Regions from separate parts of the Homo sapiens genome. Here region 1 is linked to region 2. Evidence: fine-mapped expression QTL. A gene starts in region 2. The other region holds a variant in brackets. All regions are shown on one strand. Distances are from middle to middle.

Region 1 (15,774 bases), 26 kb before region 2:
GTAAATACATATGCATTTAACACTGGAGCACCCAGACATATAAAGCAAATATTATTCAACCTAGAGAGAGAGACCCAACACAATAATACCTGGAGACCCCCCAACTTTCAGCATTGGAAAGATCACCCAGACAAAAAAATCAATAAGGAAACATTAGTCTTAATCTGCACTATAAACCAAATGGACCTAATAGATATTTACAGAACATTTCTTCCAATGGGTACAGAATACTTTCTTCTCTTTAGCAGATGGATCATTCTCACAGACTATATGTTAGGCCACAAAACAAGTCTTAAAAAAATTCAAAAAAATTAAAATTACATCAAGTATCTTCTCTGACCAAAATGGAATAAAACTAGAAATCAATAACAAGAGGAATTTTGGAAATGATACAAACACATGAAATTAAACAACATGCTCCTAAATGACCAGTGGGTCAATGAGAAATGAAGAAGAAAATTTAAAAATGTATTGAAACAAATGGTAATAGAAACACAACATGCCAAAACCTATGGAATACTGGCCAGGCACAGTGGCTCACACCTGTAATCCCACCACTTTGGGAGGCTAAGGTGGGCAGACCACTTTGGGAGGCTAAGGTGGGCAGATCACTTGAGGCCAGGAGTTCAAGACCAGCTTGGCCAACATGGTGAAACCCTGTCTCTATTAAAAATAGCTGGACATGGTGGCACATGCCTATAATCCTAGCTACTTGGGAAGCTGAGGCAGGAGAACTGCTTGAACCTGGAAGGAGGAGGTTGAAGTGAACTGAGATTGCACCACTGCACTCCAGCCCCAGCAACAGAGTGAGTGAGACTCCATCTCAAAAAACAAACAAACAACAACAAAAACAACAAAAAAACAAGACCCGTGGGACACAGCAAAGGCACTAAGAGGGAAATTTGTAGCTATAAGTGCCTAAATTTTAAAAAGTAGAAACACTTCAAATAAACAACCTAACAATGCATCTTAAATAACTAGAAAAGCAGAAGCAAACCATACCCAAAATTAGCAGAAGTAAAGACCAGAATGCCAATAAATGAAATTGAAATGGAGAAAATAATAGAAAAGTCAACAAAGTAAAAAGCTGATTTTTTGAAAAGATAAACAAAATTGACAAACCTTTAGCTAGACTAAGAAAAAAGGAGTAGACTCAAATTAATACCAGAGATGAAAAAGGAGACATTACAGCTGATGCTGCAGAAATTCAAAGGATCATTAGTGGCTACTATGAGCAATCAAACAGGAAAATGTAGAAGAAATGGATAAATTTCTAGACACATAAAACCTACCAAGATTGAACCATGAAGAAATCTAAATCCTTAACAGGCCAATGAGAAATAACGAGCTTGAAACCATAATACGAAGTCTCCCAGGCTGGGCATGGTGGCTCATGCCTGTACTCCTAGCACTTTGGGAGGCCAATGTGGGCGGATCACCTGAGGTCAGGAATTTGAGACCAGCCTGGCCAACATGACAAAAACCCATCTCTACTAAAAATACAAAAATTAGCTGGGCGTGGTGGTGGGCACCTATAATCCCAGCTACTCAGGAGGCTGAGGCAGGAGAATTGCTTGAACCCAGGAGGTGGATGTTACAGTGAGCCAAGATAGTGCCACTATACTTCATCCTGGACAACAGAGTGAGACTCTGTCTCAAAAAAAAAAAAAAAAAAAAGTCTCTCAGTTCCTCCCCTCTTCTTTTCTCCCCTTCCTCTCCTAAAAAAAAAAAAAAAAAGGAAAAAGAAAAAGTCTCCCTGCAAAGAAAACCCCAGGACCCGATGGCTTCACTGCTGAATTTTACCAAACATTTAGAGAAGAACTAATACCAATCCTACTCAAACTATTCTGAAAATAGAGGAGGAGGAAATACTTCCAAATTAATTCTACAAGGTAAGTATTACCTTGATACCCAAACCGGACAAGGGCACAGCAAAAAGGAAAACTACAGGCCAATATCCCTGATGAACACTGGTGCAAAAATCCTTAACAAAATACTAGCAAACTGAATTCAACAATACATTAAAAAGATCATTCATCATAACCATGGGGGATTTATTCCAGGGATGCAAGGATGGTTCAACATAACACAAATCAATCAGTGGGATCCATCATATCAACAGAGTGAAGGACAAAAACCATATGATCATTTCAGTTGATGCTGAAAAAGCATTTGATAAAATTCAGTATCCCTTCATGATAAAAACCCTCAAAAAGCTGGATATAAAAAGAATATACCTCAACATAATAAAAGTCGTATGTGAACAGACCCACAGTTGCCATCATATTGAATGGGGAGAAACTGAAATACTTTCCTCTAAGATCTAGAACACAAGGATGCCTACTTTCATCAACATAGTACTAGAAGTCCTAGTTACAGCAATCAGACAAGAAAAGAAATAAAGGGCCAGGCACAGCCATTACTGGCTCACACCTGTAATACCAGCACTTTGGGAGGCCAAGGTGGGTGGATCACTTGTACCCAGGAGTTTGAGACCAGCCTAGACAACATAGTGAGATCCCCATTTCTACAAAATATTAGCCAGGTGTGATGGCACATACCTGTAGTCCCACCTACTTGGGAGGCTGAGGTGGGAGGATGAATTGAACCTGGGAGGTCAAGGCTGCAGTAAATTATGAACATGCCAAAGCACTCCAGCCTGGGTGGCAGAGTGAGACCCTGCCTCAAATAAAATAAAATAAAATAAATAAAATAAAATAAAATAAAATAAAATAAAAAAATAAGTAAAGGGCATCCAAATTGGAAAGGAAGAAGTCAAATTATCCTTGTTTGCAGATAATATAATCTTACATCTGGAAAGACTTAAAGACACCACCAAAAAAGTATTAGAACTGATAAACAAATTCAGTAAAGCTGCAGGATACAAAATCAACATACAAAAATGAGTAATATTTTTATATGCCAACAGTGAAAAATCTGAAATAGAAATCAACAAAACAATCCCATGTACAATAGCTACAAATAAAATATCTAGAAATTAACCAAAGATGTGAAAGATCCTACAATGAAAACTAAAACATTGATGCAAGAAATTAAAGAGGATATAAAAGATGGAAAGATATTCCATGTTCCTGAATTGCAAGAATCAATATTGTTAAAATGTCCATACTACCCAAAGCAATCTACAGATTCAATGCAATCCCTGTCAAAATACTAGTGACGTTCTTCACAGAGATAGAAAAAACAATCCTAAAATTTATATGGAACCACAAAAGATCCAGAATAGCCAAAGCTATCCCAAGGAAGTAGAACAAAACTGGAGAAATCACATTACCTGACTTTAAACTATACTACAGAGCTATAGTAATATAGTAGTATAGTTTTTAAACCATTAGAGTATACGGCATGGTACTGGCATAAAAGCACAGATCACCGGAACAAATAGGAAACCCAGAAACAAATCCACACACCTACAGTAAACTCATTTTCGACAAAGGTGCCAAGAACATATATTGAAGAAAGGACAGTCTCCTCAATAAATGGTGCTGGGAAAACTGGATATCCACATGGAGAAAAATGAAACTAGACCTCTATTTCTTGTTATATACAAAAATCAAATCAAAATGGATTAAAGACTTAAATCTAAGACCTCAAACTATGAAACTACTGAAATAAAACATTGGGGAAACTCTCCAGGACGTTGGACTGGGCAAAGATTCTTGAGTAATACCCCAAGGACAGGCAACCAAAGCAAAAATGGACAAATGGGATCACATCAAGTTAAAAAGCTTCTTCTGCACAGCAAAGGAAACAATCAACAAAGTGAAGAGAAAACCTACAGAATGGGAGAAAATATTTGCAAACTCTCCCTCTGACAAGGGATAAATAACCAGAATATAAAGGAGCTCAAACAACTTTATAGGGCAAAAAAAAAAAAAAAAAAAAAAAGCCCTAATAATCCAATTTAAAAATAGCCAAAAGATCAGAATAGACATTTCTCAAAAGAAGACACACAAATGGCAAACAGGTATATGAAAAGGTGCACAACATCACTGATCATCAGAGAAATGCAAATCAAAACTACAGTGAGATATCATCTCACTCCAGTTAAAATGGCTTTTATCCAAAAGACAGGCAATAACAAATGCTGGTGAGAATGTGGAGAAAAGGGAACCCTCGTACACTGTTGTTGGGAATATAAGTTAGTATAACCACATGGAGAACAGTTTGGAGGTTCCTCAAAAAACTAAAAACAGAACTACCATATGATCCAGCAATCCCATTGCTAGATATATACCCCAAAGAAAGGAAATCAGTATACTGAAGAGACACCTACACTCCCATGTTTATTGCAACACTATTCACAATAGCCAACATTTGGAAGCAACTTAAGCGTCCTTTAGCAGATGAATGGATAAAGAAATATGGTTCATATACACAAGGGAGTACTATTCAGCCATAAAAAGAATGAGATCCTTTCATTTGCAACAACATGCATGGAACTGATAGACGTTATGCTAAGTGAAATAAACCAAGCACAGAAAGACAAACTTCGCATGTTCTCACTCATTTGTGGGAGGTAGTGAGTAGAATGATGGTTACCAGAGGCTGGGACGGGTAGAAAGGAGTGGGAAGCAAGTTGAGATGGTTAATGCGTACAAAAATATATTTTTGTACATATATTCATATGTACATACTCCAATACCAAATACCAAATACTCCCATAAGAGCTAGTATTTGATAATACAACAGGGTGACTACAGTCAACAATAATTTATTGTACATTTAAAAATAACTAAAATAGTATAATTGGATTGTTTGTAAAACAAAGAAAGCATAAATGTTCAGGGGATGGATACCCCATTTATCCTGATGTGTATGTCTGTATCAAAATATCTCATGAGCCCCCTAAATATTTATACCTACTATATACCCACAAAAATAAAAATAAAAAAATAGAGATGCTCATAACTCTTCTCAGACTTGGGGAATCAGAAACTGAGGGTGAGTAGCAAAAGGAAAAAACTAGCAACTAGATCTCTAGAGTTCAATTATCAAGGATAATATATATTTTTGACATTGAGTAAACCATTATGGATGGCATTATAGTAAAGTGTAAGCATAGATCCATCTTGAATAATGAAATTAAAATTTACTTATAGGAATTCTAATATTTTTATTTTTATGTATTTTTCCTCAATAAAGGCAGACCATGCTATTTAAAGAAATGATAGACTTTGACAACAGGAAGGTACACACCTGATTAGTTTTTCTAATTACGTGCTTATTACATATACATATATGTATCTCTAGTTCTATCCATTTATATACATAATTAGGAACATGTTTTTTCTAAAAATAGAATATTTAATGTAATGTTTAATTTTTCATTATTACACCTTAATAGGAAAAAATGGAATACTAAAATTTATCTTTAAATATATAGTTTCATGGTCAGTAGTATTAAGACAATACTGTTTATTTATTTAGGGCTCATAACCTTAGGATTTTTAACTTTCAGGAAATACCAGCCTAAAGTAAATTATTAATTCAAGGATGCTAGATAAAGACTCTTCATGAAAAAGAAACGCTATACCCTGCTGTGTTGCAGGCTCTCAAACTGTCCCTCAAAACGTTCCTAATACTGCTCACTGCACTAATTTTTTTTTCCTTTGTCGTCTCCCTTTCTATAGTCAGAAGCTATCTAGTCCCTCCCTCTTTAGTCTCCAGGGAAAAGGTGTTAGCTCATTTACTTGTCATTATTGAGCTTCTTTCTTTCCCACAAAAGCCAGTCTATTTATCATTCTTCTTTTTAGGCTTGGACAAAAAAGAGAAAACTTTATACTTTTTTTTAAGCAGAGGCACATTAATATTAAATCCCTTAAGCAGGAATTTCAAGGAGAATGTCTCAGAACAACATTTAAACCAACATCATAAATGCTTCCTCCTTTTAATAAAAGAAACTCTCTGAAATAATGCTGTCCTCAAGAGGGTCATCTGATAGTTTTGGTACTATCTTCTCATTTCTACTATCTTTCTACAATTGTTGTTGTGAAAAGTATTAGAGAAATAGATAGATGCTCTACACAAAATCTTCACAATATGGTCAACTTCCTTTCCCCCTCAAGCCCACCTTTCATGCATGCACACATCTATGCTTTGTTTTTAACTTCTTATATTCAATTTTTATTCTTGTTATTGAATGAAGCTCTGATTGGTTTACTATATGACAAATATTCTTTGCATTTTAAGAATCTCAGGTAGCTCTCTATCTTTTTTCACATTGGTTAGAGAGGCAGGGATCAAAGTACAAAACTGGGACAGTCACTGCTTATGTTTGTGCTTTATCTCATTAAGTGCTGATCACCAGGAAGGCAAACAGCCTGTCACGAAATTTGCCTTGCAAAGAATATAATAAAGAAATCTTATGAAAAGAGGCTGAACAGAAGGTATGTTTAATCTGTTGTAATGTTGGTTAGCCCCAGTTTCAGACCAAGAGTGATGATACTTGGAAAAAAAATTGGGAGTCTGCCTGCGGGCAACATTTACCCCGATGTAGAGATTGCTACAGAAACCTAACTGTGGGAAGTTTTCAACACATAAGTAAGGATTTATTAAAGGAATTAATATCTTTGAAGGCTCAGAAAGCAATCCTATTTTCCTACAAGATGGATGAAAGGCAGAGATTTCAAAACATTTGCTAGAAAACATCAATAGCCAATCCTGCTGATTTAATTTTTTCAATCCCTCAGGCATCAAAAGAAGTTGTGACTTGTCTACATTGCCTCGAAAGCAAAGCAATATTGTAAATTAAAAATGACTGGAGCTTAGCTGGCTGCATTTCATTTTTAATTAGTTGAATTTTCAAATATTTATCAACATTTCTTAAGCTCAGAAGCTAAAGAACTTCCCCTCACATTTTTTTTCTGAAGAAGGTTGGTGATATTCACTTACACGTCAAGGAAAAAGTCGTTAGATTTAGCTGGCTATCACAAATACTAGAAGAAATGGTATTTAGTCATCTCCATTTCTCTTCTTTTTTATTCTTGAGCAAGCAGAGACTTCCTATTCTTTTTAACCAGTTGGGAACTCACAAAACATAAACTCAGAGATTGATGGTAAAAATGAAAACAGATTCTGACAACATGTTACATCCCAATCACAAAAGTGTAACAAAGGCAAAAAATTTAATCCTCATTAGTGTAGTAGTGAGAAACAAAAAACCAAATTTTTTTTTTTTAAAGCAGCTGATTTTGCTTTAGGCATTTCGTCGAGGTGTGTGGTTAATTCATAAGCGGCAGGGGCAAGGTAGCCCCAGATTTTGGAATTGGTTTGCCTCTGAGAATAAAAATTAAAATGAAAAGAATAAAAATGTAATAGATGAGGCTAATCATCTATTCAAAAATATATATTTTATTGACTACTCTTTTATGTCAGGTACTATTTTAAGCACTTGGGATAAAGTGGTGAACCAGAAGTCAAGGTCCCTGACATCATGAAGCTTATATTCATTTATAGAAATATTTAGTCCTAACCAATACTCTGTGAATGGTAGAGTTCTAGGAGCATCTAAACTCTTTTCAAGGTAACAAGTATATTTTCAAGAAAATGTGTCTGTATTAGTATATCTAAATCTTTAACCTTGTCAATTATATTTAATCTTACCTGAAAAATGTGTTAAAAAAGGAGACTAGAAAAAGGAGAGGCCAAGAGCAGGAATTTCTCAGTGTGTCTTCAGCATGGCCCTGGGCAGAGGAAGCAACTTCCACTCCCCTTAGCAGCTTCCAATCCCCTTTGCAAGTCTATTCTCAACAGTGAAGATGGATACATCAGACAAGCTTGATGCCATTAGTAATGGTGATCCAACTAACTCTCACTGCCATGAATCCAAAGTGATCAAGCAATCTTTGGTTACAGTGTGGCTTCCCATATGGATTTTCCCACAGAGAGAGGATGTGTTCTTTACAGCCCCAAGGACCCCAGTCCTTTTAAAGCTATAGTTCTTAAATCAGTCAGCATTAAATTCTTAATTAATTAATTCTTAAATCGGTCAGCATTAAACTTAAATTCTTAATTAATTAATTCTTAAATCAGTCAGCATTAAACTTAAATCAGTCAGCACTCTAGTTTATATTTAAGTATCTCAGGGGCTTGATTATGAATCTGAACATTTTTGACTATTCTGACAAAACTGAATTTCTAGAATGATAAAGTTTTAGCTCAGACCCTCGAACAGTATTTCGCCAAGAAAAGTTAAAATTTATGGCATGAGAATCATCTAGGGAGCTTGTTAAACATACAGATTCCTGAGACTCATATTGTACTTATACTAAATCAGAATCTTTAAAGATGAGGCTCAAGATCTGCATTTTACCAAGGCTTCCAAATGATTCTAATGTACTTTAATAAAGCTGGAAAGTCACTGTCTGAGAAGCAAGGGATCGCATCTAATGAAGCTCTGTTTGGGCATTTGGCCAGTTTCCGACATATCATCTCCATCTTTATACATTGTAACAAAGTGTTTCAGCGAATTCCTGTCAAGGCTTGGTGTCTTTCACAATCCGGCCTCACTTTTCCAGTCTCATTTCTCACCTTTCCTCTCAATCACTTTATGCTTCAACACTCTGAATACACGATTTTCATGGCTCTAGGCCTCTACATTACTTGAGGGTTTTTCTTTTTGGGGGAGAAGAGGGGGTGGACGACAAATAGCATCCCAGTTCCTTGCCTGAGTTCTAAACCAACTGAAGGAGGCAGTTTGAGAACAAAATATCACTATTATTACCAACAATGCCTAGATTGGAGAATGTGGCTTATATATGGAAACTAAAAGCCTTCTTAATTCTGAAGCCCAGAATTAGACATACTTACCCATCCTGTCTCAGGAAGAACAGGATAACTACTGGCCTCATCTCTCATAAGCAA[C/A]CAATTATTTCTAAGCTTATGTAAGGCCAAGAGCAGACCAGGTCTATCAGACAGAGGAGGGAGGAAGGAAGTGGCTGAGGCTGAGTCAAGCATACCAAGTTCCTGCTCCCTAACTCATTAGTTAAAATAAGCAATTCCTCTACAACTGGGAAGAAATGATGAGTGAAGGGATGGAAAGAGTCCAGGACCATTGCTCTAATGGATGTCCCTTGACAAGAAAGGAAACAACTGGAGTGGAGAGTAATGCACCCCCATGACAGCATGCCCTACTGGTGCTTGAGGTACCCTATTACTCTCCAATCCTTTCTCTTAGTTTGACTACCTTATTCCTACTCATCTTTCAAGATATAGCACAAATGTTCACTCCTCTGTGAAGCTTGAGGAACTGAGGGGAGTACTCCCACCTTAATGCTGTCATAGGACTTTAAATGACTTTTATTATGGTACTTTTCATGTAATACACTTAGCTATTTTCTTTCTCTTATGAGTGCAGGGATTGTGACTTATATGTCTTTATATTTCCATAGTAGGTGTCCGATGAATTTTTGCTGAATGACTGTGAAAAAGAAGGTACATTCAAATATTTTTAAAGCTTAGTATTTTTAAGCCTGATTATAGCACCAAGACCAACAAGAAGACTAGTATTTTCCTTTATAGGATTTTCTTTTCTGAAAAAATTGACTAACAAATCTGGTCAAGGCTGATATTGCCTATTTAAGCCCCATCATAGAAACCCAATTGGCATCATCTTATTAACATGGCATATATGACTGATGATCTGATCCTAAAACAGGCCTTCTTTCAGTTACTGTAGCTTTACCTACTCAGGATAAACTAGTAGGTAATAATCACTTAAAAAAATTCTCCAATGAAGTAGAAACTACTAATAGAGAAGTTATTTCAGGTAAAACTTGAAATTTCAAAGTTCAATTATAAATTTATATTATGATTAATGATTTGCATGCATGTTTTATAATGGGAATGTTTCTCTTTCTTTTCTTTCTTTCTTTTTTTGAGACGGAGTCTTGCTCTGTTGCCCAGGCTGGAGTGTAGTAGCAGGATCTCAGTTCACTGCAACCTCCGCCTCCTGGGTTCAGGCGATTCTCATGCTTCAGCTTCCCGAGTGGCTGGGATTACAGGCGCCCACTACCATGCCTGGCTAATTTTTGTATTTTTAGTAGAGATAGGGTTTTGCCATGTTGGCCAGGCTGGTCTCGAACACCTGACCTCAGGTGATCGACCCGCCTTGGCCTCCCAAATACTTTCTCTCTTTCTCTCCAAGTATATATGTTGTCTCTAATTGTGTAAAGAAAGGATAAAAGGCATTTTACTTTTAAATTTCAACACTACAGGCCAGGCATGGTGGCACATTCCTGTAATCCCAGCACTTTGGGAGGCTGAGGTGGAAGGATCACTTCAGGTCAGGAGTTCCAGGCCAGCCTGGGTAACAGAGGGAGATCCCATCTCTATAAAACATAGAAAAAATTAGCCTGGCATGGTGGTGCACGCTTATAGTCCTAGCTACTTGGAAGGCTGATGCAGGAAGATCACTTGAGCCCAGGAGTTAGAGGCTATAGTGAGCTATGATCATGCCACTGTACCCTAGCATGGGTGACAGAGTGAGACCTTGTCTCAAAAAAAAAAAAAAATTCAATACTATATGTCTTTATAGCAGGGATGATTTATAATTATGAAATGGAGATATAATTATGAAATGAAACATAAGATTTTCAGCTTTAATTGATAGCACCAATTTGTAGATCCTTGTAAATAACACAAAAAGTTATTTGTGTGGTACTCTTAATTTTAAGATGAACATTTGACGTTAGAGAATATATAACTGTCCCTGTGTAAAACTGGCTTGTTTTCAAACTTACCTTTTGTTTCAATTATTAGTTGTGGTAAATCTCCCAAATGATTTGTAAATAGCATGTATTAAGTGGTAAAATGCACTGAGCTAGGATCTGCTCAAGGCTAAATCTCTCCCTGTTCATTTCGAATAACACAAAACAAAAAACAAAACAAAACATACCAAGTAGAAAGACCAGGAGCGGTGGCTCATGTCTGTGATCCCAGCACTTTGGGAAGCCTAGGTGGGCGGATCCGTTGAGCTCAAGAGTTGAAGACCAGCCCAGTCAACAAGGTGAAACCCCATCTCTACCAAAACCAAAACAAAAACAAAAAACTCCACAAATATTAGCCAGACGTGGTGATGCACGCCTGCAGTCCCAGCTACTGGGGGGCTGAGATGGGAGGATCACCTGAACCCTGAGAGGTTGAGGCTGCAGTGAACCGTGATTGCACCACCACACTCCAGCCTGGGTGACAGAGTGAGACTGTGTCTCAAAAGAAAAAAAAAAAAAGAGAGAGAGAGGAAGATACAACTACTTAAAGAACATCCCAGCAAGAGATATATTTGACCTGTTCTGTTAAAGAGATCCAACGGATTTGGGAGTGGATAGGACAATCAAATAATTTTCAAAATCAGCCTTTAATGTCATTTTAATACATTTATTTCTATTGGTATAATCCCAGACGTTCTTTAATTCTGTTTCAAACAGGTGTCTGTTAGTGTACTTTCTTCCGTTTAGGACCTACCATAAACTTAAAAATTGAGCTGTTTTGTCAATCAGCATCTGTTAAACTCAGGGTCTATATTTCAGTAAATGTGCTTCTGTTTAACTATCTTTTTACGGTCATAAGAGAAATAAACATATAAAATAAATGCATGTCAATGCATAGCTGTGCAGGAGTACAGATGTTTTATTAATGAAAATGAATCCAGCTTTTTGTAAGTCATGGCAGCAATATAACATTTCATTGTTTGCTTCTGTGCTAGACAGTCCCTGCTGTTTCCACATAGAAATTCCTGTAATGCTTAATGGACATCTGGAAGAATTCAGCCAATTAATCGAATTCATGTAGGAACTAGGCTAATGGCTGTCTGAAAGGCAGATTACATTAAATCAAACTTGCAATATGAATGAAAGCACTTAATCATACATGCAACATTCATTAGATGCGACACAGCAAGTGTTTTGATTACTTTAATGAAAGATCAGGTAAAGTGCATCAGCTGAACAGATTGAAAAGACAGCATGCTTACAAATGTTTGATTATGCTGAATATCAACAGAAACAGTGCCAGTAATTTATAGCAAAACATATTTGTAAGTGTCTAGAGCTGGTGAACTCAGTGAAATTCAAAGCCCATGCTCAAAACAATAATTAATAGCCATATATGATAAAACTTTAATCGGATGTCAGGAAAAGAGACAGATTGCCAGAAGTTTAGTAATTTATAGTCACTGGGTGCCTTCATATTTTGAATGGCTTGAAATATCTTTGAACCTCAATTTCATTTACTTTGAGGTACACAGTTCTTGAGTCATAAGGTGTTATTATACTAAAAACACTGTACTAAAAGAGGAATTAAATTTGTATGTTGGGCTTTAAAACCTCATGCCAGGAATTAAAATGCTATTCTTAATAGTTGTTTCTGCCTATTTCATGAATATTTCCACTTTTTCCTTTTTAATTATCTCATCGATTTTTCCCTAATATTCTACAGAAAGAAAGGCTAAAAAGTACATTTTCTAGATAATAGTATTATAAGTCTTGTAATATATTATAGCAAATGCTATTTGCAGCTTTTTGGATAAAATAAAAAAGATACAGCAGTGGTCCCCAACTTTTTTGGCACAAGGGACTGGTTACATAGAAGACAATTTTTCCATGGACAGGGGTGGGGGTGGGAATGGTTTTGAGATGAAACTGTTCCACCTCAGATCATCAGGCATTAGATTCTCATAAGGAGCACCAACCTAGATCTCTCACAGGTGCAGTTCACAACAGGGTTCGTGTGCCTACGTGAATTTAATGCTGCTGCTGATCTGAAAGGAGACAGAGCTCAGGTGGTAATGCTCGCTTTCCTGCCACTCAATTCCTGCTATGTGGCCTGGGTCCATGGCCCTGGGGTTGGGGACCCCTAAGATAAAGGATATATGTATCCTTTTATATTTCATATATTAAATAATTATTTTATAATTAATAAAATTATGAAATGTATATTTTACATAATTTTCCATATATATATATATAAAATTTCCTTTCGGTTCTCTTTTTTTTTTTTCCCCAGAGATGGGGTTGGTCTCATTATGTTCCTTAGGCTGGTCTTGAATTCCTAACCTCAAGTGATCCTCCTGCCTCAGCCTCCTGAGTAGCTGGGATTACAGGTGCCAGCCATCACACCCAGCTTTCTTTCTTTTTTTCTTTTTTTTGAGATGCAGTCTTACTCTGTTGTCCAGGGACCGGTAGTTGGTAAAGAAGGTGGTGGAGCAAGTGGAGAGCACAGTGGCACAGCCTCTGCTCACTGCAGCCTCCACCTCCCAGGTTCAAGTGATCCTTCTGCCTCAGCCTCCCCAGTAGCTGGGACTACAGGCGTGCACCATCACACCCGGGCTAATTTTTATATTTTTAGTAGAGACAGGGTTTCACCATGTTGGCCAGGCAGGTCTTGAACTCCTGACTTCAAGTGATCCACCTGCCTCAGCTTCCCGAAGTGTTGGGATTACAGGTGTGAGCCACCATGCCTGGACACCCAGCTTTCTGTAAGTACTTTTAATACTAGACAGGACTGACTTTAAAGGTGGTGGAAACCACTTTTTTTTGGGTTTAACAGAAGGACTTTTTTTTAACCTCTGAACTTTTTATTGGCTTCCTGTTCCCCAAAGGGTATCCTGCTTCTGCTGGCTCAGTGTCTCAGAACTTCTGTGTCATTGGTCTCAGACACTACTTTGCCATCCACTATCCTGCAGGTGGTGGTCTTGTGGATGGTTTGCATGGAGTTGCTGCTGTCCAGGGCATCATCAAGATTGAAGTCCTCCCTGTCTTCCAGCAGGCGGTGGTAGGTGGTGATCTCAGCCTCCAGCTTAGCTTTGATGTTCAGCAGGGCCTCATACTTCTGGGCCTGGTGCTGCCCCTCTGCCCGTGTGTGCCAGCAAGATCCCATTGAGCTGCTCCATCTACATGGGTAACGTGTCTCTACCTCTCTCAGGCTGTTCTGCAAGCTGAGCTTCAGATTTCTCATTGGGTCCAGGTCGATCTCCAAGGACTGGACTGTATGTCTCAGCTCCGTGAGTGTATTCTCAGCAGCTCCAATCTCGGCGAACTGCGTGGTGACCACTGTGGTGCTCTTTTCAAACTGCTGGGACCAGTAGTCTAGCTCCCCTCAGTTCTTTTGAGCCAGCTTGTCATATTGGGCCCAGGTGTCTGCCATGATCTTGCTGAGGTCCTGAGATTTAGGCGCATCTACCTCCCCAGTCAACCCAGAGCTGGCAATCTGGGCTTGTAGGCCTTTTACTTCCTCTTTGTGGTTCTTCATGAAGAGCAGCTTCTCCTTGAGAACCTCCATCTCTGTCTCCAGCTGCAGCTGAGTGACATTGGTGTCATCAGTGATCTTGTGGAGCCCATGGATGTCGCTCTCCACAGACTGGCGCATGACCATTCTGTCTCATAGTTGACTCTAAAGTCATCAGCAGCAAGATGGGCACTGTCAATCTGCAGAACGATGCAGGCATGGCTCACAGTATTTGCAAAGATCTGAGCCCTCAGATCCTTGATGTTCTTGAAGTAATGCCCCCAATCTCTGACCTGGGGTCCCTTCTTCTGCAGGTGCTCCTGCATTTTGCTCTCCAGCTTCCATTTCTTGGTCTCCAGACTCCTCACTCTGTCCAGGCAGTAGGCCAGGGAGTCGTTCAGGCCTTGCATGGTCTCCTTCTCATTCTGGATGCCCTCCACTCCTGCCAGACCCCTGGCCATCCCCACAGCCAGGCCCCCAGACCCCAAGTTGCCCCAGAAACTGGTGGAGTGGGACATGGAGATCTGGGAGCCCAAGCCCCCAGCACCTGCATAGATGTTGGCCATGCTGCTGACTGGCAGGGCGCCATAGCTTGGCGGCTTGATAGAGCCAAGGGACTGGTAGTTAGTAGAGAACATGGTGGACCAAGTGGTGAAGCTCATGCTATCCAGGGAGGAAAGCGAGAGGGCAGGACTCAGGTTTTGCTGAGGTCCAGAAGGACTGGTTTTTATCTCTCTAGAGTGATATAAGTGTGATTCTGAAAACAGGGAAATGGACATAGGATCTTTCAAGTCCTTTTTAGATATTTTCTTCAACTCAAGCCAATGAATATGCATTAAGCACTCAACTGTTTTAGGTGCTATGGGTTATATCAAGATGTGAGATAGATCGTTGTGGCTATAAGGAGTTTATAATACTCTATTCACCAAAACAACACAAAGAAAAATTAAAGCAACAGCAAAAACAAACAAGAGAACAACACACCGTAGAATATATTCAAGAAGTAGAATGTGAAGTGCAGATTTATAAATTTTGTAGAAAATTAAAGAAGAGCTAAAATAATGAGGAAGTTTGCATTTGAGCTGCTTAATTTACTTGATAAGAGATATAATTTCAAAGAATTAAAATTTCATTATTCTAGAATTGTCTTAGTCTGTTTGGCTGCTATAACAAAATGCCATGCACCGGGTAGCTTTCAAAAAACAGAATTCTTTTTTGTCACACTTCTGGAAGCTGGGAAATCCAAGATCGACTCCAGTAGACTCAGTATCCACTGAGGCCCCACTTTCTGGTTCACAGATGGAGATGGTGTCTTTTAGCTGTATCCTCACAAGATGGAAGGGATAAATGAGTTCCCTTAGGCCTATTTTATAAGGGTACTAATCCCATTAAAAGGCTCCACCCTCATGACCTAATCACGTCCTAAAAGGCCTTACCTCCTAATACCATCACCTGAGGGGTAAACATTCAGATAGAAAAATCTATGAATACTGTTTTGTTTTCTTACAGAGATTTAAAACATTGAGTGTT
Region 2 (15,774 bases):
AAACCCAGGATGTGTATAAGATAGAAAATCTAATAGAAGATCCTCCCCAACAAGATACTGGGACTCCAAAGCCCTTGAGAATTTACTGCTTGTATTCAAATTGCCTGGGTCAGTGAATTTTAAGCCTTGAACTTGGGTTAAAGTAATTCTAAATTGGTAGTGCCAGAAGCAAATATAAATCCTCTTTGAAGCAAGACACCTTTATTATAGGCCTAAAATCATTTCTAGAAATAATTCTTCAAATGTAATGTTCAGCACCTAATAAAAAAATAACAGATACATAAGGAAACTAGATTAAACGGGCAAGTATCAGTAGAGACAACAGACAATAAAAACAGACTCACAAATAACTCAAATATTGAATTTATCAGACTCAGACTATAAAATAAGACTACAAAACAATTATGAAGAGTATGTTTAAAGACAAAAGACCAACTTGATGCTGTCTACAGAGAACAGAAAACCACAAAGAGTAACGCAGCAGGTTTGACTTTGAAAAAAGAATCATATAGAATTTTATTGTGATTTTAAATATATTTTTATTTTATAAATAAAAATAAATTTTATAGCTAATTTTTAAAATACAAATTTAAAATCCAGGGCCAGGTGCCGTGGCTCATGCCTGTAATCCCAGCACTTTGGGAGGCCAAGGCAGGCAGATCACGAGGTCAGGAGATCGAGATCATCCTGGTCAACATGGTGAAACCCCGTCTCTACTAAAAATACACAAATTAGCTGGGTATGGTGGTGCACACCTGTAATCCCAGTTACTCGGGAGGCTGAGGCAGGAGAATCGCTTGAACCTAGGAGGTGGAGATTGCGGTGAGCCAAGATTGCACCACTGCACTCCAGCCTGGCGACAAAGCGAGACTCCGTCTCAAACAAATAAATAAATAAATAAATAATAAAATCCAACAGATTTTAAGTGTATACTACATTAGACATACTTCAAGATTTAGTAAACCTGAAGAACATCAGAAGAAATATTCCAGAGGCAAGAAAAGAAAAGAAAAAAATATATATAAGAAGGAAAAAGACACAGAAGGTACAGTGACAATGTCTAACATAGGTTTGGCCAGGGTTCTAGAAGGAGAAAAAAAGATAAGACAAAATAGAAGCAATTATCTGAAAAGTTAACTGCTGAGGATTTTTCAAACTGACATTACTTCAAAGCACTGATTTTTTTTTTTTTTTTTTTGAGATGGAGTCTCGCTCTGTTGCCCAGGCTGGAGTGCAGTGGCGCGATCTTGGCTCACTGCAAGCTCCGCCTCCCAGGTTCACGCCATTCTCCTGCCTCAACCTCCCGAGTAGCTGGGACTAGAGGCACCTGCCACCACGCTCAGCTAATTTTTTGTATTTTTAGTAGAGACGGGGTTTCATCGTGTTAGCCAGGATGGTCTCGATCTCATGACCTCATGATCTGCCTGCCTTGGCCTCCCAAATTGCTGGGATTACAGGCGTGAGCCACCACGCCCGGCCCAAAGCACTGATTTTAACAAGTCTTACAAACTGAAAGAATAATAAATGAAAAGAAATTCATACCTAAGTGTACTAAAGTGAAACTTCTTAAGACTGAAGACTAAAAACAAATATTAAAATAACCTAGGCCAGGCGTGGTGGCTCACGCCTGTAATCCTAGCACTTTGGGAGGCTGAGGCAGGCAGATCACCTGAGGTTAGGAGTTCAAGACCAGCCGGGCCAACACAGCAAAACCTTGTCTCTACTAAAAATACAAAAATTAGCTGGTCATGGGTGCCTGTAATCCCAGCTACTCAGGAGGCTGAGGCATGACAATCACTTGAACCCAGGAGGCGCAGGTTGCAGTGAGCTGAGATGCCCCTGCACTCCAGCCTGGGCGACAAGAGCAAAACTCCATTTCAAAAAAAAGAAAACAAAAAACAAAAAAAAAAGAATCCAGAGAAAAGAAAATTACTTTCAAAAGAGTCCTAATATACTAACAGCTGACTTTCCACTAGTAAAAATGGGAAAGAAGAGACAGTGGAATATTATTTTCAATGTGCTGAAACAAAACAGTTACCATAAAATAATGACATTTGAGATATACTAGAGGAGACATATTTTGCCACTATCAAATCTACAATGAAGGAAATTTTAAAGCATGTATTTCAGGTAGGAGGAGAATGATCTCACATGAAAAGTCTTAGATACAAGGAATTAAGAGCAAAGAAAATGGAAAATGTTTAAGTAAATCCAGTGTTTAAGTGTATAAAACAATAATAATAGTCTTGTGGACTTTCAAAAATACAAAATTAAAATACACAACAATAGCATACAAATCAGGAAAGAATATATGGAGTTCAAGTGTTCTGACTTCCTTATATTATTAAATTTTGACAAATTAAAAATGTGTAATATAATTTTAAAAGTAATCAATAAAATAATACAAAGAATATAATTTTAAACTGGTAAAGAGGAGGATTTGATACATAAAAATCAGATATCCATCTAAAAGAGGACAAAAAGGAGAGAAGAAGAAATGTAATAGATCAGACAAATGAAAGCACTTTGGAAGATGGCATATTTAATTCTAAATATAGTAGCAAGAAATGTAAAAGGACTAAATGGTTCAGTTAAAAGCTAAAGATTGACTGTTAAAAAAAATCCAACAGCTAATAGGAGACACATTTGAAACATAATAATAAAGAAAGGTTGAAATTAAAAGGAAAATACATACCTTGTAAACACCAACGAAAAGAAAGCTGATATGTCTAGAGGAAAACATCAGACAAAACACTTTAAGGCAGAAAGCATTAGTACAGATAAAGAGGGATACTTTATACTTATGAGAGGTTTCAATTAACCAAACGGATATTGTTTTTCATTCATATGAATCTTAAGACTATGAGAAAGTCTCAAGATTTTATATAGCAAAAGTTGAGAGACTATAAAGAGAAATAACATAAATTACCATATATATGTGGAGGGGTGGGCATAATATAAAACTTGGTATGTACAACTGCAAAATATACATTCTTTTCAAGCATGTGAATGGAATCTTAAATATAAATATATAGATATAGATAAAAGTTGACATGGCTTTTTCCCCGTCCAGCCAGGTAGCAATTTTCATTATTCCCAAGTGTTTATTTGGAACACATATAACACATTATTTGTGTACATAAAAGCAGGTTAGATAGGCTCTACCCTTATTACAAGCAATGCAAACACACCAATGTTGAGCACTTGGTAAGAGCCAGCTCTGTAGAGGATACTAGTTTATCTCCTTTAATTTAACTCTCATCCTATTATGTCGGTATTATTATGCCTAATGTGGGGAAAAGAACTAAGACACAGAGAGATTGAGCAAAAATTTTAAGATCAGCCCCCACTTTTTTTTTTTTTTTTTTTGAGATGAAGTCTCACTCTGTTGCCTAGGCTGGAGTGCAGTGGAGTGATCTCGACTCACTGCAACCTCCGCCTCCTGAGTTCAAGTGATTCTCCTGCCTCAGCCTCCTGGGTAGCTGGGATTACAGGCAAGTGCCACCAGGCCTGGGTAATTTTTGTATTTTTTGTAGAGATGGGGTTTCACCATGTTGGCCAGGCTGGTCTCGAACTCCTGACCTCAGGTGATCTGCCCACCTCGGCCTCCCAAAGCACTGGGATTACAGGCATAAGCCACCGCGCCCAGCCGAAGATCACCTCTTTAGTAAATGACAGTGCTAGGATTCGAATCTACTCTTTATTAGCAATGAGCCAGCTCCAGAAAATACTTATTCGTTTAAGGCTGGAAGTAGGGAGGTAAGCATTCCTATCGGAGGATCTCTAATAATATTAGGAAGCTATCTTTGTACAACATTGACAAACGTTTAAGTGTCTGCAATATAGTAGAATTACATATTGAGCCAAAGAAGTGGCTAAAATAGTTTGATGAGAGAGCTGTCTTAGAAGACACAGTTAGTGCTAGTGATTTGGAATGTGAGAATGGCTGAGAGTAAAGAACTATCATGTACCCAGCATAAAGAAATTAAAAAGCCTCTTCTATTTGACATCTTATGCTATTGAAAATCCTTTCCTTCTAGTTCAAGTTCACTATTTTCCCATTGCTTATACGTCCTGAAGTGAATTTCAATCTCAACAGTCTTTCATGACCAAATGAAAGTCGTTATAAATTCCCTCTGCTTTCAAGTTTTTAGAATGTGTATTATCTATTTTACTGCTCAATACAGGGAGGAAAACATAGATAAGTATAATTATAGAGTGTATCAGTCAATTATTTAAATCTATTCAATATTTGAATAATTAGGCCCACTTCATCTTCTATCAACTGTTTTAATATTTGTTCAGCTGAGCTTCACGCCTCAAGTCTCATCCCACTTTCTTACCTTCTCCACATCTTTCCCTCAGCCTCACAGCTGCATTGCTCCAACATAGCCATACAGTTTTCTTTTCAAAGCAAATATTTGATTATATCATTTAAATGCTTTAAAAAAAAGCAGTAGCTTTCACTTAAAAATATCCGCACTCAATTTAGTGTGGTTATAATGGGCTTTGCAATCTTGCCCCAGTTTATCTTTCCAGTCTCAGCTTCTCCACTCCTTACACCCTCTTAGGACAAAAATAACAGACTGATGGCCCATTTATGGAAAATACTGTACTGTGTTGTCATGCCTATGTGACAAGAAACTGAAGCCAGAGAGGTTAAACAGCCTGTTTAAGTCACGCAATAAGAAAATGGCAGAGCCGAGATTCAAACTCAGATCTGACTGACTCCAACTCATGGGCATAACCCAGTACACTACATTGCCTTCTTTTGTCTTTTACATCTTTTGTGAATTTTGTTTTAACCACATGAAACAAAATTAATTTTGAGCACATTAAATGGTGTGCATAATCACTACTGTCTTGCATCATAATTGGGTATAAAATATCAGCCAGTCACACAAGAAATTATTGTTATTTCTGAAGAATTTAGGGTTGCCATTAGTGTCAATAGTCTTCCTTCGCCTCAGACACTTAATAACACCCTCTTTTCATTTAAGACTCACTATGTGCCATGCATTGTGATAAGTATTTTATAAACACAATAACATGTAATGCCCAAAGTACCCTGTGAGATAATTATTTCTATTTCCATTTGTGATGAGGAAACTGAGGGTTAAAAAGGCTAAATTGCTTAAGATTAAACAGCTAGTAGTGGAGCTGGAACTCTACTAAACTCAAACTGTCTAACTTTAAAGCCTGTGCCCTCAACTAACTACCCTATACAACCTCCCTTTAAATGTCCTAGATTGAACTTCTCAATAAACTGGATCCTATCCTGTACATCTTATTTTTGCCTAAAATTCCCTGTTTCCTAAACATGTAGTTTTCTCTTGCCAGTCTTATCTTTCCTACTAAGTAGCTGACCGCTTCTTTCTGCTCCCATTCTTCTAGTATCCTGGGTACTAAACAGCTTAAAATAAGAGGCTCCTGTCATGAATTGGGGTTTATTTTCCCTATAGGTAATGGCTTCAGAGGAAGAAAATGGTGGTGATCTAAGCCATGGGTCAAGTGGCTGAGGTGGGAGGAAAAGACTTCCAAGGGCATATGATACAAGAAAGACTTTCCTATTCCTTTCATTTGTCTGGACTAAGATTCCCAAATGCCTAGGATCTAGAACTCCTTATGACTTTGTATACTTTCTTTTGTACTCAGTCAGGGTGGGCTTCAGGCCTGTGGGTTGCAGTAACAAGAAACTGTGATGCTTTTTTTTTGAACCTGGTAGCTTATGATTTTAGACATCAATTCATTTATATATGTCAGGCATTGATCTAGATACCAGATGAAAACGAAGCTGAGAACAAAACAAAGAACCTACCGTCCTGGATTTTATAGAGACAACAGACAATTAACAAATACATAATACAGTGGCAAATAGTGATAAATGCTATGAAGAAAAAGTAAAGGGACAGAAAATGATGAAGATATCCTTCAGGCAGTAGAGAAAAAGAAGAAAATGATGAAGGGTGATGGTGGGTTAGGGCTGTTATTTTAGTTTGGGTGGTCAGGGAAGATCTTTCTCAGGTGGTATTATTTGAGTAAAGATCCACAAATGAAGTTAAGAAACAAGATGTGAACATATCTGAAGAAAAAACATTCTGGCAGAATAAACAGCCTTGAGGTGGAAGTGTGCTTGTCATGTTTGAGGAAAATAAGGTGTCCACTTAGATGGAGCAGACTGAATGAGGAAAAGAGGAGTGGGAGATGTGGTTTAAGAATATCCAGGGACCAAGCAGAGCTTTGGATTTTATTCTAAATGTGTTGGGAAGCCACTTGAAGATTTTGAACAAAAGAGTGAAAGAATCAGATTTATATTCTAATAGGATACAACTTGCTGCTGAATAAAGTATACACTATAAGGAGGCAAGGATGGAAGCAAGAGACCAAATAGAGTAACAGTGGTAGAGAATTTGAGAAGATTCAGATTCAGGAAATGCTTTGAAAATAGAGCTGATAAGAACTGCTAATGGATTGAATATGGGGTGTTTAGCTTTAACCCAAAGTCTTTGGGTTTTGGCTGAGGCAACTAATTGAATGAAGGTGCCATTTACTGGGATGAGGAAAACTGAGATGGGGATTAAGTTTAGGAGAGGAAATCAAGAGTTTGGTTTTAGATTTGTGAGAGACTGTTTGACTTTCAAGTTCCTAGGGACAATGGGCCTGTAGTAGCTGCAGCTGGTGTTAACCTTTTACAGGGACATGTCTAAGTGGAGGTGAGGGGGCAGAGAAACAGAAGAAATAAAGTTCCTTCTGAGTAATCTCCCAGATATTCAAGTGATAAAAAGCAGGTTAGTCATCTGAGCCTGTCTTATACACACTGATTTCAGGGCAAGAAGAAGTCTCCTCTCTCTTCAAAAAATGTTCCGATTTCTATTGTCTCAAAATTTCTGAATTTAAATTAAATGTATCCCGCAATTAGAGAAAGCAGAAAATGTAAATAGCTTGAGAGATAATCCAGTGCGTATGAGTTTTTACCAAAGTATAACTGAGAGCAGATGAAGGTCCTGAATGTTTAATCTTTTTGTGAAGAGAAAGGAGGTAGATATTAAATAAAACAAAGATTTTATAATCTTGCTTTGGCAATGCCCTATTTATCGTAATTTTTAAGTGAGAAACTACAGAAAGAGTGTTTGTATCTTGAAGGATCATCTAAGTTTATACCCAAGGGGGGATTACGCATTTAAATTCTTTCTCTTCCCCACATTTTAATCCTTTCTATCTTTTAACCCTTAGTCTTTTCCCAAAAGTGTTCTTCAACTAGAAGGCCTGTGGCATGATTGAGGCTTGTCAACTCTCTTCTAGGGCCAGATTTCAAACAGATGGCCCTGGAGAATGCTACTTATCTGTACAGTTCTCCATTTGATGTTGCAGTGTGCTAGTATCCTAGGGGAAGGGTACCACATTTAACTCCAGAAAGGATTTAAGGCAGTTTTGCAATTTTTTTTTTTCTGATTATCAGAGTAATATACGATTATTGCAAAATATTTTAACAAAAAAGTTAAAAAAAGACTATTTGAATTCCTACTTACTAGAGGCAATCCCAACAACATTTTGGCATATTTCCTTCCACTGTCTTATATGCATTTCGTTTTTTTCATAACTGAGCTCTTTATTGTACAAGCAACTTTTGCTGCCTGCTGTTTTTGCTTAGTTATGGTATATATGTTTGTCTCTATCATTACATTTTTAAAGCTACGTAATCATCTATAACACGGCTATACTATAGTTTACTCAAGATGGTTTCTGATTATTTATAATTACAAATAACACTGTGATAAACAGCTTTGTGCATAAATCTTCGCTCTTCTTTTGGATGACTTACTAAAGGAGGAATTGGTAGATTAAATGTATACATACTTTTTAAAGCTTCTGATGTAAATTGTTACAATGATTTCCAGAAAGGATGTTATTAAATTACACTTGGGAAGGGAAGGAGAGAGCTATTGGAACTATCGGATCTGGTAGAAAATATCTGACAGCAATTCTTACAAAGTACTATGCCCCTGGGGAAGAGTCCTTTCTCTCTCTGGAAAAGGGGTTATCTTAAAGTATTAAAATTATTACATCAGATTTTCCACACCACACAATATGTATGGATCATGAGGAGGAAAGGAGAATTGAGAATTTGAGTTAGAAGTCACATATAAGCTGACATGTCAGAAATGACCAATTTGGGAAACTAAGTTTACCAACACTGCTAAAGGACTCAAATATTTTAAACAGTGGTTCAGATATTGTGATTATGCAGTATCAGGTTTATTTAATTTTGTATCATTTCATGCTATTTAATGAGACAATATAATGAGTGTTTTTCAAACTGTGGGTCCTAATCCATTTGTAAATTATGAAATCAATGTATTTTCTATGACTGCTATTTTTAAGAAACAAAATACAATACAATGAAAAATATGAGAATGCACTGCAAACATTTCAATGTATGATTTCATAATTTACAAATAGATTAGGACCCACAGTATTATTTTGTGAGACTTTTGTTTCAGTTACATGTGTGTATATACTATAGAACACATTTATTATTGTGGGATGTGATTAAGGAAAAAAATAGTTTGAAGCCATTGGTGTAGTGGAAAGAGTCTGGGCTTTGGAATTAGCCAGAACAAGTTTGAATCTGAGCTCTGCTTGGCTTTTACCCATTATCTAACTAAATGGCTCAATCACCACATTGAAAAAAGAGAGAAATAATATCTCCTTTTTGGTTTGTGTGTGTACATGTTGTGTGCGTGTGTATGAAGATTAGAGATTACTTAAGCAGAATGCCTATAACATAGTCAATGATTAATATATAATTACTTCCAAATCTTTCTCAAAATAATGTTCTCCCTGTAAAAATACTTCACTGAAGAAAGACAATGTGTTTTATTGATGACTACATCTGTTATGCTATCGTGTACTTTTAAAACACCTCTGTCAGTCTTTTTCTCCAATTTGGTTTAGTAAGGAGACTTGTGCACATAGTCTTTCCCCTTCCTGTTCTCACACTTTATTTACCTATATTATGGATCTTGGCACTTTATATCTGTCATAGATGGTCTAATTGTTGCCTAGTTCAATTACTACTAAACACTTTCAAACCTCTTCTAGTTCTCAAAATAGTGGTGGGAGCATTGCAGGGTGCCAGATGAAAATCTGTTGAGTTTGCTCTACAGCACACCTTTTGCAAAGTATCACTTGTGGTGTACGGGGAAGCAGCTGTAATGCTGATTCCGCCGGCATTTCTCACTCAATCTACTCCATGCTAAACAGGCCGGTTAGGAATTAAGTCATACTCTGGGTAGTACAAGTGGAAAGTGTGAACAGAGAAACCACTTTATGCGAGGACAGTGGAAAATGAGATCCTCCTTTCCTCTCCCTACTCCTGCTCCTATCGAGAAGCACTTAAGAGCGCAGACGCCCAGGACCCAGCCGCGCTCGGGCGTCCCGACTCGGAGGCTGGCGGCGGGCAGGCACGCTCTCCCGCGCTGAGAGCCCTTCTGCGGAGATGAACTCTCGAGTGTCGCCGCCGCGCGCGGGCCCGATCGATACCGGCGGGCGGACGTGCTCCCGCCGCCGACAGCAGCCACAGGGCGGTGCAGTCAGCTGTCCGGCCGCTCGGTCGCACTTCTCATCAGCTCAATACCCGCAGAGGACGTGCACCGGTTCCCTCCCGGACACCCACCCCGTGGTCTCCGCCGCACCTTCTGCCCACCGCCCCTTCCGCTCGGCCGTCCGGCGCAGAGCGGGAGCTTTTCAGCCAGACGCCCTCGCGTTGGGGGCAGCCGGGTCCCGGCCCGAGCGGAGGGCGTCGTGAGGTGGCCTTTTCGCCCGGCTCCCCAGTGGGACGCTCCGCGGAGGCAGCCAAGGCGGGGAGTGTCGAGCTCCCTCACACTCTGGACCTTACCTTCTGGCGTCTTCGCCCGGGAGGCTGCAGGGGGAGGCGGACCCAGCCGGCCACAGGGGCAGGTTCGCGGCGCTGTGAGGCGGGGCTGGGCGTGCGCCGCCGCCGCCGCCAGATTCGTCTACTCCAGTGAATCGGCACGGGAGAAAGCCCCGCCCCCGGCGCCCGCTCCCACTCCTGATTGGCCGGGCCAGCCCGGGGAGGCCCGGCGGGACCCCGGCCCGCGTCTCAGCTATAAAGATAGCCCCGGCATGACAGCCGCGGCGAAGCTCTTCTAGTTCATCTGCTGGCCGGCTCTCAGTCCCCGTGGCGCCCCCTTTCCTCTTGTCCCAGAGCGCTCTCGACTCCACCATGCCAAGGGGATTCCTGGTGAAGCGAACTAAACGGACAGGCGGCTTGTACCGAGTTCGCCTTGCGGAGCGTGTCTTCCCTCTGCTGGGGCCCCAGGGGGCGCCGCCCTTCTTGGAGGAGGCTCCCAGCGCCTCCTTGCCCGGCGCGGAGCGGGCGACACCCCCCACCCGAGAGGAACCAGGAAAGGGGTTGACGGCGGAGGCGGCCCGGGAACAGTCGGGGTCGCCATGTCGGGCGGCTGGGGTGAGCCCGGGGACGGGCGGGCGGGAAGGCGCGGAGTGGCGGGCGGGTGGCAGGGAAGGTCCCGGGCCCAGCCCCAGCCCCAGCCCCAGTCCAGCGAAGCCGGCAGGCGCAGAGCTGCGTCGGGCGTTCCTGGAGCGCTGCCTCAGCTCGCCCGTCTCCGCCGAGTCTTTCCCCGGGGGCGCCGCCGCCGTGGCCGCTTTCTCCTGCTCCGTGGCGCCAGCAGCCGCACCGACCCCGGGGGAGCAGTTTCTGCTGCCGCTTCGGGCGCCGTTCCCAGAGCCCGCGCTTCAGCCGGACCCTGCGCCCCTCTCGGCCGCCCTTCAGAGTCTGAAGCGGGCGGCCGGCGGCGAGCGCCGCGGCAAGGCACCCACGGACTGCGCGTCTGGACCCGCGGCCGCGGGAATCAAGAAGCCAAAGGCCATGAGGAAGTTGAGCTTTGCCGATGAGGTGACCACATCCCCTGTCCTGGGCCTGAAGATCAAGGAGGAGGAGCCCGGAGCGCCGTCCCGGGGCTTGGGGGGCAGCCGCACGCCACTGGGGGAGTTCATCTGCCAGCTGTGCAAGGAGCAGTACGCAGACCCCTTCGCGCTGGCCCAGCACCGCTGCTCCCGCATCGTGCGCGTAGAGTACCGCTGCCCTGAGTGCGACAAGGTGTTCAGCTGTCCTGCGAACCTGGCCTCCCATCGCCGCTGGCATAAGCCGCGTCCTGCGGCTGCAAACGCCGCCACAGTCTCCTCCGCCGACGGGAAGCCGCCTTCTTCGTCGTCTTCGTCCTCCCGGGACTCCGGGGCCATTGCATCTTTTCTGGCGGAGGGAAAGGAGAACAGCCGAATAGAGCGGACTGCGGATCAGCACCCGCAGGCCAGGGACAGCTCCGGGGCGGATCAGCACCCGGACAGCGCCCCGAGGCAGGGCCTCCAGGTGCTGACGCATCCAGAGCCACCGCTGCCTCAGGGCCCCTACACGGAGGGGGTGTTGGGGCGCCGGGTACCTGTGCCGGGCAGTACCAGTGGTGGCAGGGGATCCGAGATTTTCGTGTGCCCATATTGCCACAAAAAGTTTCGTCGCCAAGCCTATCTGCGCAAGCACCTGAGCACTCACGAGGCGGGCTCGGCCCGTGCGCTAGCGCCGGGCTTTGGCTCCGAACGCGGTGCCCCACTTGCCTTCGCTTGCCCATTGTGCGGAGCGCACTTCCCTACAGCAGATATCAGGGAGAAGCACCGGCTGTGGCATGCTGTCCGCGAGGAGCTGCTCCTGCCCGCTCTGGCGGGGGCTCCTCCCGAAACGTCGGGCCCTAGCGGGCCATCTGACGGGAGTGCCCAGCAAATTTTCTCGTGCAAGCACTGCCCGTCCACTTTTTTTAGCTCTCCAGGGCTGACCCGGCACATCAATAAGTGCCACCCCTCAGAAAGCCGGCAAGTGCTGCTGCTGCAGATGCCACTGCGGCCTGGCTGCTGAGGGACGAGAGACCAGGATGATTTCGAGGTTGGCCTTAGAGGAAACAGATCATGGGAATTTCTGTGGGGCTTTCTTCAACTTGCAAGTTTACTTTCATTCCTTCCTATGTTTTAATCCCCTAAAATTCTCCCTGTAGTCAATGTTCCACCAGAGGAGCGGACAGTGAAATGTAATATCCCTCTCTAGAGCAGGTATGTATATGGTATAAACCTTGAGATCAAAGACTGTCAGCTTTAAATCCTTCTCACTTTCCCCACTAAAATAGGATTTTTCCCCTTAAAACTCTGGAGACCCTAACGAATCCTATATGATTTGTAATTCCTATGGAAAGTCGCGGTGAATGCGTGCATGTCTCAATGTCCACAAAGGATTCTGGCTACCCTTTGGTAGCCAATGTTTTTTTTGTCTTGTCATCACAGGCGCCTATACAGCTTCTGTCTCAATAGGGTCAGATATTTTGCACTGTATATTCTGTGAATTAAAAGTTATGTGATTGGTGTCAAACTTAAGGAGATTCAAGACCTGGCAGAAAATGTAAGAGGATTTTTGCTGCTTTTGGGGTGCATGGGGATCTCCCCTGTAAACTTTCCTTTGCCCAATTATATGTACATGTCCATTCTTAAGTTGGTGTTTGGAGGTGGGGAGGATGCTACTTTACTGGAGTTGAGACACCCCCTAAAATTCTCACCCTCAGCTATTTTGTGGGCAGTATTCAGGAAGAGCTACTTCAAACCTTTCTTTAAATGGCTTTTTGGAAATACAGAAGTCGTTTCCTCAAGTTTGACTGTTTTAATGGGGTTTCACCCAAATTGTTTAATGCTTCTGCTGTAAATGTCATACTGTGTATTCATTATGAAAATATGTACAGCTTAAGGAAGATGTTAACACCTGTAATCCACTAAGGAACTGAATGGCAATTTGCTCAATATTCAGTATTTTCTTTTCAGCGGCAACTTGTTTTTGATTTTTTTAAAAAACCATTTCAGTGTACATTGTGTACTAATTCCCTACTAGCCAGTTTGGGACATTGGCTGAGCACTGCCTGACAGAAAGCCCGTATTTGTAAGATGCTTACCACCAAATAAATGTACATAGACTGTGCTTTTGTTGTGTTCTGTGTTTGTCTTAAGAATCCTGTTGAACACAGCCTATTTTCAAAGCCACATTTCTTATCTCCCCAATGTCGGTATCCTGTTTTAGAATGTTAGTGACCCATTTGGACAGAATACAAAGACGGAAATATTTTGCAAATGAATGTGATGGTGCAGGAATGCAATGAAAAATTTTCCTTTGAAGTATGGCTGCAAAGACTGAGCTGCAAAAAGCAAGGAATATGCACTAGTCTTTGAATCTAAAAAAGACATCCCCCCCAAGAAATGTCAACCGAAAACATATTTTAAATATATATATATATATATTTCAAGCTAGTGAACAGTGTTACCTGAAGATGAAAAGAAGTATTTTAATGGTGCTAATTAATTTCATTATTTCAGGTTTGTATTTTTACTCCATATTGTTATATATCATCAATCCATTAGATTTTTTATAGCACTTTAGAAACATGTATGCAGTTACTCTGATTTTCCTTTTTGTAATTCTTCACCTTGGCTGTAGGAAATTGTCTACATTGTTCAATCTTCTTCCCAAGGACTCTATCCATTTGTTTATCTTCTACATCAGCTTACATAGGACTTTTAGTTTTCATTTATAAGAAAATGAAATTGGGTGCACAGAATTTCTGAAAGATTGTCTTAGAAACTTGTTAGTACGAAGTTTTATTGCTGAAAGTATATTATAAAACAAAGTAAAATTTAAGAATCAAAAAAACATGAAGCTGTAATCCCAGCACTTTGGGAGGCCGAGGTGGGCGGATCACGAGGTCAGGAGATGGAGACCATCCTGGCTAACACGGTGAAACCCCGTTTCTACTAAAAAACAAAAAACAAAAAACAAAACAAAACAAAAAAATTAGCCGGGCGTGGTGGCACACGCCTATAGTTCCAGCTACTCAGGAGGCTGAGGTAGGAGAACTGCTTGAACCTGGGAGGCGGAGGTTGCAGTGAGCCGAGATCGCGCCAGCCTGGGTGACAGGGAGACTCCGTCTCAAAAAGCAAAACAAAACAAAACAAAAACATGAAGCTGAGATAAACTAACAATCTAACCAACTGCATTGGGTGAATTTCTGGCCAGCCTTTATGAAGACAGAAAATTTCCTGTGTTTTTAACGACTGTGGTAGGATCTGTGAGAAATAAGTTGGAATGTATCTTGAAAAGGGAATTCAAGTTTATTTTTGATGATTAGCTAAGATAATCTAGGTTCATGCTTTAAATCTCCTCACTACTCATATAGCCCTGCTTATTGAAAATATATGAAACATAGAAGACAAATCAACACTCATGGATAGGAAGTGATAAGAATATTTTTATTGTATTATTAAATACCATGTCATCTTTCCCCCCCACTGTTACAAATTATAGATACTACATGAATGATGATACATAATTTATATTTTACGGTTTGCCAGTATGATGTATTTACACATGCAGTTAGTACCAATGTCATGCTACATTTCCTCAGGAGATGCCCATTCAAAACAAAATGTGAGCAGCTTATCTACTGTAAGAAAATACTTCTAGAGGGTGGAATGTATACCAACCTGGACCTGCAAGTTCAGTATTAACAATATTAGATTTAACTTAGACTCCTGGGTTATGTTCCTTTTTCTTTTTTAAATAATACTCATAATTTGAACAACATATTTATATCAGAAAATTTTCCTTCTTTTCTTCCCCATCTTCTTTTTGGTGCTTAAAAAAGAACATAGAAACACCAGGATCTAGCAGCCAATAATAAAAGGCCACAATCTGAAAACAAATGGCATTTAACAGTGATACCACTTGAAATGCAAAACATTAGAAAAATACTTGGAAGCTAAACATAAAAGTTCAGCACAGTGATTTTTCTAGTTATTGGATATAACATGGCATCACCTGCACAGCCAAGAAATGAGACATTGCTTTGGGAAGAAGAGTTAATACTAAAATGATTTCAGTTGGAATTTGAGATGCTAAAGACCATTTATTTTGAGTGTTTTATTGTCATAACAAATAATCTGTACACATTCTGTGTATTAACAGGTACATCTTTTGCTGTAACTTTACAAATGCTTAAATGTAAAATTTTACATTTGTAAAAAATTATATATTTATTGAACCATAAAGTTGCAATGGGGCACAATAAATAATGAGACTAATTGTCCAATTGTATTTTGGCTCACAGTTAACCATGAAATTAAAGATAAAACTACTTAGACATAATTATCTAGGAAGGTAAAGGGTGTAGAATAAAACTCCCCCTGCCCTCAAAATATGGCAGCTTGGATTGTGGGAAAAAAAATGAAACAATAAATAACTTAAATCTTTAATATTAAGCTACAAATTATTTAAAATTATTTAAATCCAGTGTTTTCTCAAATAAATGTACAGGAAGAAACATGCATGTTATGGCAGACATGAAGGCCTGAAAGGGTTAACCCTATGTTCGTGCTAAGGTGGCTACTGCTGATCACTGCTGGGCTGCTTGTCTCCTTAGGATTTATTGGCTGAGCCAGAGGAACGACGCAGCTTCATGGACATGCGGCTTTTGCTAGTTCGAGGAGACATTGGAGAGGCCAGGTCAGCCCCATCTACCTGCGTTGCTGTGGGAGTTTCACTGGGTAGAATCTCTGGGTAGGAGCCTGTAGGAAACAGCAAGAGCATTACTACAGTTATCCAGCCTCTCATCCCCTGAGAAATAATCTTTCTGCTACTAATCTGCAGCAAGGATC

Evidence for each region.
Region 1: its variant is fine-mapped to the expression of INSM2 in lung (TOPMed, PIP above 0.99).

Annotation. Positions count from the first base shown.
Region 1 is chr14:35,498,184-35,513,957 of GRCh38, forward strand. It overlaps the pseudogene KRT18P6. Among named protein-coding and RNA genes, the nearest start is that of INSM2, 28 kb to the right of the region's middle. The variant C/A (reference allele first, on the strand shown) is at 8,887.
Region 2 is chr14:35,524,007-35,539,780 of GRCh38, forward strand. INSM2 (INSM transcriptional repressor 2) reads left to right here and starts at 10,158. Exons shown (of 1, transcript NM_032594.4): 1 at 10,158-13,048. The coding sequence starts at 10,247. The coding sequence ends at 11,947. RALGAPA1 (Ral GTPase activating protein catalytic subunit alpha 1) reads right to left here. Exons shown (of 42, transcript NM_001346249.2): 42 at 14,350-15,684. RefSeq lists enhancers at 8,952-9,776, 9,777-10,600, 10,601-11,424, 11,105-11,254, 11,425-12,247 and silencers at 9,595-9,674, 9,775-10,144.